2 separate regions of the Homo sapiens genome follow, and region 2 is linked to region 1. The links come from fine-mapping of genetic effects on gene expression. A gene starts in region 1. The other region holds a variant in brackets. All regions are shown on one strand. Distances are between the middles of the regions.

Evidence for each region. PIP is the estimated chance that this variant, and not a neighbour inherited with it, causes the effect. A credible set is the group of variants that fine-mapping cannot tell apart.
Region 2: its variant is the best candidate, but not a certain one, in a credible set for the expression of LINC02035 in whole blood (TOPMed, PIP 0.76).

The regions. Positions count from the first base shown.
Region 1 is chr3:122,884,256-122,888,653 of GRCh38, forward strand. LINC02035 (long intergenic non-protein coding RNA 2035) reads left to right here and starts at 2,258. Exons shown (of 1, transcript NR_024618.1): 1 at 2,258-4,398.
Region 2 is chr3:122,757,747-122,762,144 of GRCh38, forward strand. It overlaps HSPBAP1 (HSPB1 associated protein 1), which reads right to left. Exons shown (of 8, transcript NM_024610.6): 4 at 1,478-1,614. Among named protein-coding and RNA genes, the nearest start is that of HSPBAP1, 34 kb to the right of the region's middle. The variant T/C (reference allele first, on the strand shown) is at 2,080.

The DNA.
Region 1 (4,398 bases):
TTTTTTTAACCTAGCTAAAAAATGAAAGCATAGAATTGATTTCAGTAGCTTTGATGAAATAATCAAAACACATCAAGCTATTTTAACTCTAAACGTGCTTGCTGGACATAGTACATTGTAAGGCTTGGGACTCCAAAGGGGATACCAGAATATCAACCCAAACATCACAGAACTCTTCGCATTCCCTACTTTATAAATTCTTCTGATTTATAAAGACAGCTTCTGCAACCTTGAACAAAATGGCAAGGATAACTTGGAGAAACTGTCAGTTTACCTTAATGTTAGAAAATGATACTTCTTTTAAAGCACTATTTAATTTAGGCTTCATCTAATTCTAATTGGCTTTCTCATTTACCCAGAAGGATCATAGAATCAAAGAAATGATCTAATTCAGCCACCTCATTTTACAAATCAGTAGAGAACCTTTTAGGTTAAATGACACAGCCAGGTTTTAGCAGATCACTTGGCTCCTAGACCAGCATTCAATCCCTAAATGATCAATGTGTTAGCCATAAGTAATTCTTTTAAGTAATTTTTTTCATTTCTTTTAGAGTTTTGAAAATTACATGAGAAATACATGAGTGTATAACTATTATAAAATAGTACAGGAATAGAAAGTAAAGTCTACCTCCATACAAACATGCTGTTTAATCCATTCTCTCCAGAGGGTATCATCATTCATTCTTTCAGAAGAAACTTGTGTATGCATTTACATATCTATGTATAAAAACTCGGGGGGCATTTAAAATCGAGTCACCTAGGGATCTCTTTCTTGGACCATATTGGTATAAACTTTATGGGCAGAAGCAGAAGTTTCTGAGATCCTTATTTCTCTCCCAGATGAATCTGTCAGATGTAGCATATTGTGGTTAATGTAGGTGTTTCACAGACCTGCTTATGTACCATCAAGCTTTATCATATTCTAAAGTTCAAAAGTGAGTTCCAATATGCATTATTGAGTTGAGTTCCAATATGCACTATTGTGTTTTCTTACTGGAAATACAATTTCTGTTCTTAACACCATCAACTAAGCTCCCTGTACTGTGAGAAAAGAAAGTGAGTAACCGACCTATGAAATCCATATAGATTTCCTCCACAGGACTTTCTTGGCTTCCCTGTCTCTGCAGAGGCACACAATATTATAGAAAACAGAAGCCAAAAGAATAATCTTGTGCAATTTTTTTTTTTTTTTTTAGACAGGGTCTCACTTTGTCATTCAGGCTTGAGTGCCCTGGTGTGATCTCAGCCCACTGCAGCCTCAATCTTCCAGGCTCAAGCAAGCCTCCAGCCTCAGCCCCCCAAGTAGCTGGGACTACAGGTGTATACCACCATGCCAGCTAATTTTTTATATTTTTCGTAGAGATGGGGTTTCACCATGTTGCCCAGCCTGGCTTGTGCAATTTCGTTTTTTGAAAAAATAGCTAATGGAGATTCTGATAATTCTTATTGTTTCCTGGTCAACTTCTGTGTCTTTCCTAATTTTCAAGCTGTCAGTAGAAATGATGAACTGTAGCAGGCCAGAAGCTCAGCTTCATTTGGTCACTTTTTCCTTTCCTGTCTTCTTGCCCATCCAGCTTTCCCCTTTCTGATGGTGTCTTCTTATTTCTGACAATGCTTGGGAGCGAGCTGTGTGACACCCAGATTTTACGAGTTGCCAGCGGTGGAGAGGAGAGAGCCGGGCATGCAGATTCTTCATGGACCCTACTAGAGAGGACAGAGAAAAAGAGCACTGGTGTAGGAGCCCACGGGTCTGGCTCTTAACCCTGGCCTGGTGACTTCAGCTATTTGACCTTGAGCAAGTCACTTCATTTCTCCTTTAGCAACATCTCTAAAATGAGGGAGTGAGCAAAAATGTTCCCTTAGATTTCTTCTAATTCAGAAATACCAGTTGATTCTTATTTAAATATGAACATGACCAAAGCATGTGCAGTCTGTAAAGCTGGAGAGGTGCCCAGCACCTTGGTGTTTCCATTTGTGCGGTAGCCCCCCTCATGTGAGCCCTGTACGTGAACATATGAAATCTTATGCTGCATCCACATTCAATAAGAAGAAATTGCTTTTTCAGTGTCTGTGGGAGGAGATAAGCTGCAGGTGCTGTTTATTTTCCCAAAGGACTTTATATATGAAACACAGGGTTTATTAAATGTATCAAATGCAATAAGAGAAAAATCTGTCATCTGATGTTGAGATAGCATACTGGGAGCCAGGTCGGGGTACTGCATTTGCTCACCAGAATCAGATCAAACGAGATACGAGTCCTTTGGTTTGATTGGATTCATCATGAGGCAGCATGGGTTTGCACTTGTAGAAATCAAAACTGTTAGGTCAGGTAGTAAAGCCAATCCTTGAACTTACATCTTTAGTTAAGGCATCAAAGAATTGTAAGTTGCTTTGCAATGATGCCATCTCCACATGGTCAGATTCTTCCAGTAAACTGTGCAGATATTTTACAGAATAAGAGCTAAGTTTCAGCATGTCAAGGAATGATCTGTACTCAAGTGTTAGTAAACAAGGGTTTTTTTGTTTGTTTGTTTGTTTTGAGACAGTCTCTGTCATCCAGGCTGGAGTGCAGTGGCATGATCATAGCTCACTGTATCCTCAGACTACTGGGCTCAAGTGATCTTCCTGCCTCAGCCTCCTGCGTAGCTAAGACTACAAGCGCATGCCACCACCCCTGGCTAATTTTTTATTTTTTATGGAGAAGGGGTCTCACTATGTTCCCCCAAGCTGGTCTTGAACTCCTGGACTTAAGCAATCCTCCCACCTCAGCTTCCCAAAGAGTTGGGATTAAAGGCGTGAGCCCCCATGTCCGGCCAACAAGACTTCCTCGTGACTATAATGTGAGCATAATATTAATAGCTCTGAGAGAGAGAAGTGAACCAGAAGACCAACCTCAGTGTCAGGAAGTCTGGGCGTCTGTCTTCTGCATGGCTGAAGACATGGGGCTTTGGGCAAGTCATCTGTTCTCTTTGAACTTTGGCTTCCTCACTTCTGAAATAGGAGGGTCAGAGAAGATGTTTCTTTTTGCTGAAAAGTTTTACAGTTCTCTGATCTATACCCCTTGGTCACACACAACCAAAAAGTAGAAAACATGAGTGCAATACTTTTCCACCAGTACTCCCAGTTTATACATTATCTTCTCAAACCAATAAGGAACTTCTACAAGGCCCTGTTAGTGATGTGTTACAGGTGCCAGCATTAGGGAAACTTTCAGACTGTTATATCTATTCGTTCCTTCATCCATGTATACTATTCATTCTGTATGCAGAGTAATTTATATATGTACAATTACATGGCAGTGAAAGATAATCAGAAAAATGAAGTTTTTTTTTTTTTTTTGAGATAGTTTTGAGACAGAGTCTTGCTCTGTTTCCCAGGCTGGAGTGCAGTGGTGTGATCTTGGCTCACTGCAACCTCCGCCTCCCGGGTTCAAGGGATTCTCGTGCCTCATCCTCCCGAGTAGCTGGGACTACAGACATGCGCCACCATACCCAGCTAATTTTTGTATTTTTAGTAGAGATGGGGTTTTGCCATGTTGGCCAGGCCATTCTCGAACTCCTGGCCTCAAGCGATCCTCCTGCCGGCTTCCCAAAGTACCGGGATTCCAGGCATGAGCCACCATGCCCAGTCAGAAGGTTTTTTTTTAAAAAACACACTCCTGAACTAACAATTACAAAGAGCTAGTGACAATTTCCCAAATAATTATGCATAACAGGAGCCCATATATTGTTCTCAAATCATAAACCATAACTGATTTTGAGGAAAAGACATTCTGTCCCACTGATATTCTTTTCATGAGTAAGATCTGGATCTGTCTGGAGGCACAGAATTAATTTTTGCATGAGGAATCCCAACCCTACCATCATTCCATGGCTGAGGAATTGGTTATTACTCCTATGGGAAATTGGGAATGTTGTTGGTACCCCAGCCTTCTCTTAAGACAAAATTTAACAAATGCATACATGCTAAGATGCTTATACTCATAAGGCTTTGTGGGTCTCCTTTCTAAGGGGAATTTGAATACTAACAAGAACAAAGGCTAAATACCAAAAGGGGGCTTTCTAATGGTAGAATTTGGGATATCAGGTAGCCACATAGAGCAGGGCTACTTTGGGGGCTGGAGACTGCAGAAACCCTTCAGTTTATACGTGTGAGTAAACCTAATCACACTTGATGTATTGCTAGTGAAGTCCCAGCCCCCTGAGCCTTTGCAGAAACCCAAAGAATGCTAAAAAGGGCAGGTTTTAGTTCCTGCCAATTATTTCATTTACTACAAATGCCCCGAGTTCCGAATTTACTTCCCTCCCCACCAGAAATATGTCATTTTGGAGGCTTGTGAAAATTAAGCATTAAGAAAATCCCGCCTCCATCCTAATACACTGCATCCACAAGTCCCAA
Region 2 (4,398 bases), 130 kb before region 1:
AAAATAAAGTGATATTAACTTTATATCATAGAGAGAATTCAGGTATTTTTTGATGTTTTTCCAACTTGAATTTCTTTGGCTTGTTTCCAATTCAGAACACATGGACAGCAGCTACTTAAAATGTTGTCTCTCTTACCAAGTTTAAGGTTTCAGCCTGTTAACTCCACAAGGATAGAGACCACACTCATCTGATTGACTCTTGCATCCACAGCGTGTAGCTATGTACCTGACACATTCTATGCCCTTTAATAAAGACGGAATGCATCAGAGAGTGGACTAACTTCTACCATTCTGTAATTCTCAGAGTTCTTCACATGTGAAATGTATCCACAGACATACTGACTATTTCTCCTGAATCTGCTCATAATCCTTTTCACATCTAATAGGTCTGAGAACTTGCACATGACCTTTTCTGTTTTACTCTCTGTGCTGCCCTGTAAATGTCCCACATGACCAGGAGAAAAGACTGGGGCATCATTAATTAGGGGAAAATAAGGCTGCACATACATCTGAGTACATCCTCCAAGTGGCACAAACACTTAGACTCTCATAGAACTCCAGAAACCAGGTATATCAAAAGCACTGCCTATCCCTCGTATCTTCTAGAGTCCACAGATAGATGGAGACAAAAACTGACCTAAGGTAACAATACACTGTATTGTGTCAAGTAGGCACAAACTAAAATTTAGAGTTGAAAGCGTCCAGTATTTTTCAAACCAGGATCGCTGGCATCCCTTGGAGAGGAGCTTGAGGGCAACAGTGAAGCCTCTTCCTTTCAACAAACTGCTCTGCTCTTATTTATTTAGATTTGAAGAAAGGGTGTTCCCATTTTTAAATAAAAGTTTGAAAACTACAAACTCTTATGTAAAAAAGAAAAGCTAAGCATAGGCTGGGCATAGTGGCTCACACCAGAACTTTGAGAGGCCAAGGCAGGAGTATGGTTTGAGGCCATACTTGGGCAACACAGAAAGACTCCATCTCTAAATAAAAAGTTTTTTAAATTAGCTGGGCATACTGGCACACACCTGTAGTCCTAGATACTTGAGAGGCTGCGGCAGGAGGATGGCTTGAGGTCCAGGAGCTATGATCATGCCATTGCACTCCAGCCTGGGCAACAGAGCAAGACTGTCTCAAATGTCTCTAATTTACCAAAAAAAAAAAAAAAAAAAAGACCAAGCAGAGAGCTGTCTAGCTGACCTGGGAGTGGAATCTCAGAGTTCTAGAATAAACTCTCTGAAGACAATCCTGATCATGACAAGGCACGCACCTGTAAACCACCATTTTAACTGTCCTCATTTCACAGAGGAGAAACCAAAACCAGAGGTTAAGAGGTCTGCCCTAATCATGAGGCAGGCTGACAGGATGGGGCTGGGACTACACCTTGGGGTATTGCCCTATTCTCTCTGCCACCCCTATTGCATGCATGCACATGTGCGTTCCACACACACACACACACACACACACACACACACATTACCTTCCTTGTACCTGGAATACCAAGTTACAACCATAGGAGTCCAGATGACAGGGTGTGTGGGCTCCCAAGGAGCCAATCCACAATGTACTTTCCTGTCCATTTCTTCCAGGAAACCCGAAGTCAGACCATTTCACATCCTGTTTTGAAATAAAGTTGCAATCCATCAAGAACTAACCAACTTCTCTGTATGGTAATGCTGCCCATTTTCACTTGCACATCTGTTATTTAGCAGTTGGAATATTCTATTATGGAAAATGCTACAGATGGAAGAGGTTAGGTTTCCAGGGCAGTTCAAGAAATCTTTTTAGCCAATAACATATTTGAATAACCACACTAATAGTAATCATTCAACAAATATTTACTGACTACTTACAACATGCCAGGCACTGTTCTGGAAGCTTGTAATGAATCAATGAACAAAAGAGACAAAATGCCTACTCGGATGAAGCTTACATTTCAGAGTTGGAAACAGACAATAAACAGACAGGATTATGCTGATATTTAGGGAAAGCGTGTTTTGGGCAGTTAGAACAGTGAATGCAGCGGAAATGGCATTATTTCAAATATCTCTGAGACACAACCGAAGAAGTCAGAAAGCCGTA[T/C]TTCCTCTAAGCAGTGCAGATATTTGTGTACATACGCAACTTACTAACTTTGTGTACTTCAATGACCACATAAATGAAGACTTCTCCTACATTAGTGGGGTTACTTAAAACTATCAATGCTGGAGCCTTAGCTCATACCTACTAGATCAGTCTTCAGATGAGGGTGTCAAAATACATCTTTTGAAATATACATCCATGGATGGCTTTCAATATACTCCCCAAAGTCATGAACTTCTTAAGTGCAATGATCTTTAGAACAGAGACAGCATAGTGCTCTGGACTTAAGACTCTCCATATGCCTGGTTCTGTGAGCAAATCCTGCCCAAGTCAACTACTGGGAAAAGCCTATACTTTTAGAAGCCGATGGCGCATTTGCAGCACAGAAAAATAGGGTCACACATAAACCCAAATCCATGTGATTAAACAGATTTATAAGCTAGAAAAGAAAAAAAACATACTAGTGAACCAGGCATGATGGCTCTGCCTTATTTTTATTTTAATCATGAGGTTTTCCTTTCAGTTTTAAAAAATAAAAGCAAAAAAAAAAACACCCCACTTCTATGTGCAGAACATCGTTCTCAATGCTGACACTCCTTTTATCAGTAACTACAGTCTAAATTTTCTATTTTTAGAGGGAAAACATTAACAGCTGTATTCAAAGAGAAAGGATTTTAAAGAGAAATTTAATGGATGGTTTTGAGGAAGACTAGAAAGAGCATTTTTTTTTTTCATTTTTGCTTTGAGTGATGAAAATGGCTGAATACGTGCACATAATTAATGTCTGTCATAGAAGGGGGAATTTTTGCAAGGTCAGCACCACTGTAAATGCACATGGCTCACATGTGGCAGTTCCAGTGGGTGGCAAAAATCCTGTTCTCTCTGCATGTAGCCTATAAGCTCCATACTGGGAGCTTACCCCTGTTTTCTCAATGCCTAATTTAGTACCTGGCTCAGGGTTACAGCTTGGAACACACTGGCTGCTTGGGAGGGAAAGAAGAATCTGTTGACTTATGATGGTTAAAATAGTTCAGGCCAATGACATTTTTGAGTACCTACCATATACGTGGTATGATGCTGGGTGCTGGGGATACAAAAATTAATATAACACAGGCCAACCCTTCAAGTCTAATAATGAGTGATAATCCCATAAACAGAGCCTTTCAATATGATGTAACAAGCGCTCTGACACAAGTATGCAGGGAATGCTTTAAGATCACAGCAGGAGGGCCCTGCACCCAGCCAGGGAGCTTAGGGGAGGCTTCCAATTAACCTGGTCCTTGTTGAACAATTTACCACACCTCAGTCTGAGGAATTTAACTAAAGGTAGCTGAAAGCCATTCAGTATAAAAAGGAAAAAAGAGAGACTTGCCTTAGCTAAGAAGAGATAGGTCATGTGATTCTTAATCTTATAGATACATCCCTTCAGGAATCTAATGAATACCAAAGCCCCTTCTCCTCAGAAAAAAGCACACACGAAACTTTATATATACTTTCAAAGAGGTGACAGACCAACCCCACATGAAAAACCCTGTTCTAGAGCCCTGCTTTGGAAAGAATCACTGAAGGTTTTTCTACAGGGTGAGGTTACTGTATGAGAAACTGAGGAGAGACTTCCCTGGCCTCCTGTCTAACAGTAATAATGACTTAAAAAGCAAAACTGTCAGCCAGGTGCAGTGGCTCATGCCTGTAATCCCAGCACTCTGGGAGGCTGAGGTGGGAGGACTGCCTGGGTCCAGGAGTTCAAGACCAGCGTGGGCAATGTTTGGTGAGGCTCTGTCTCTACAAAAAGGTTTTTTTTTTTTTTTTAACAAATTGGCTGGGCGTGGTGGCATGCACCTGTGGTCCCAGCTACTTGGGAGGCTGAGAAGGGAGGATCACTTGAGCTTGGGAGGTCAAGGCTTCAGGGAGCTATGTTTGCACCACAGCACTCCAGCCTGAGTGCCTGAGTGACAGAGCAAGACCTTGTCTCAAAAAAAAAAAAAAAAAAGCAAAATTGTCAGTGTAAAAATAGACAGCATTGAGAGTTGGGATTCTCTTCCCAATTAAGTTCAGCCACTTATGGGTAGTCAAATGTCTGAAGTCAATGTGGGCCCAGGAATCTGTCTTGAGTCTTGCTAGAAACAGGAGGCCCTGTTTGAGTGCTGCATCTGTAAAACCAAAAAGGGTGATCAGTGGGGTGATCTGTTCTGGAGTCTACTCATACATACCTCAAGAGTTGGAAAAATCTTTAAAAATCATCTATTCTCAGCAAGTTCTATTCTACACCATCCCTGAAAAGAGCGACAAGTAGCTAGCTAGTTGACCACTTACTACAAAATC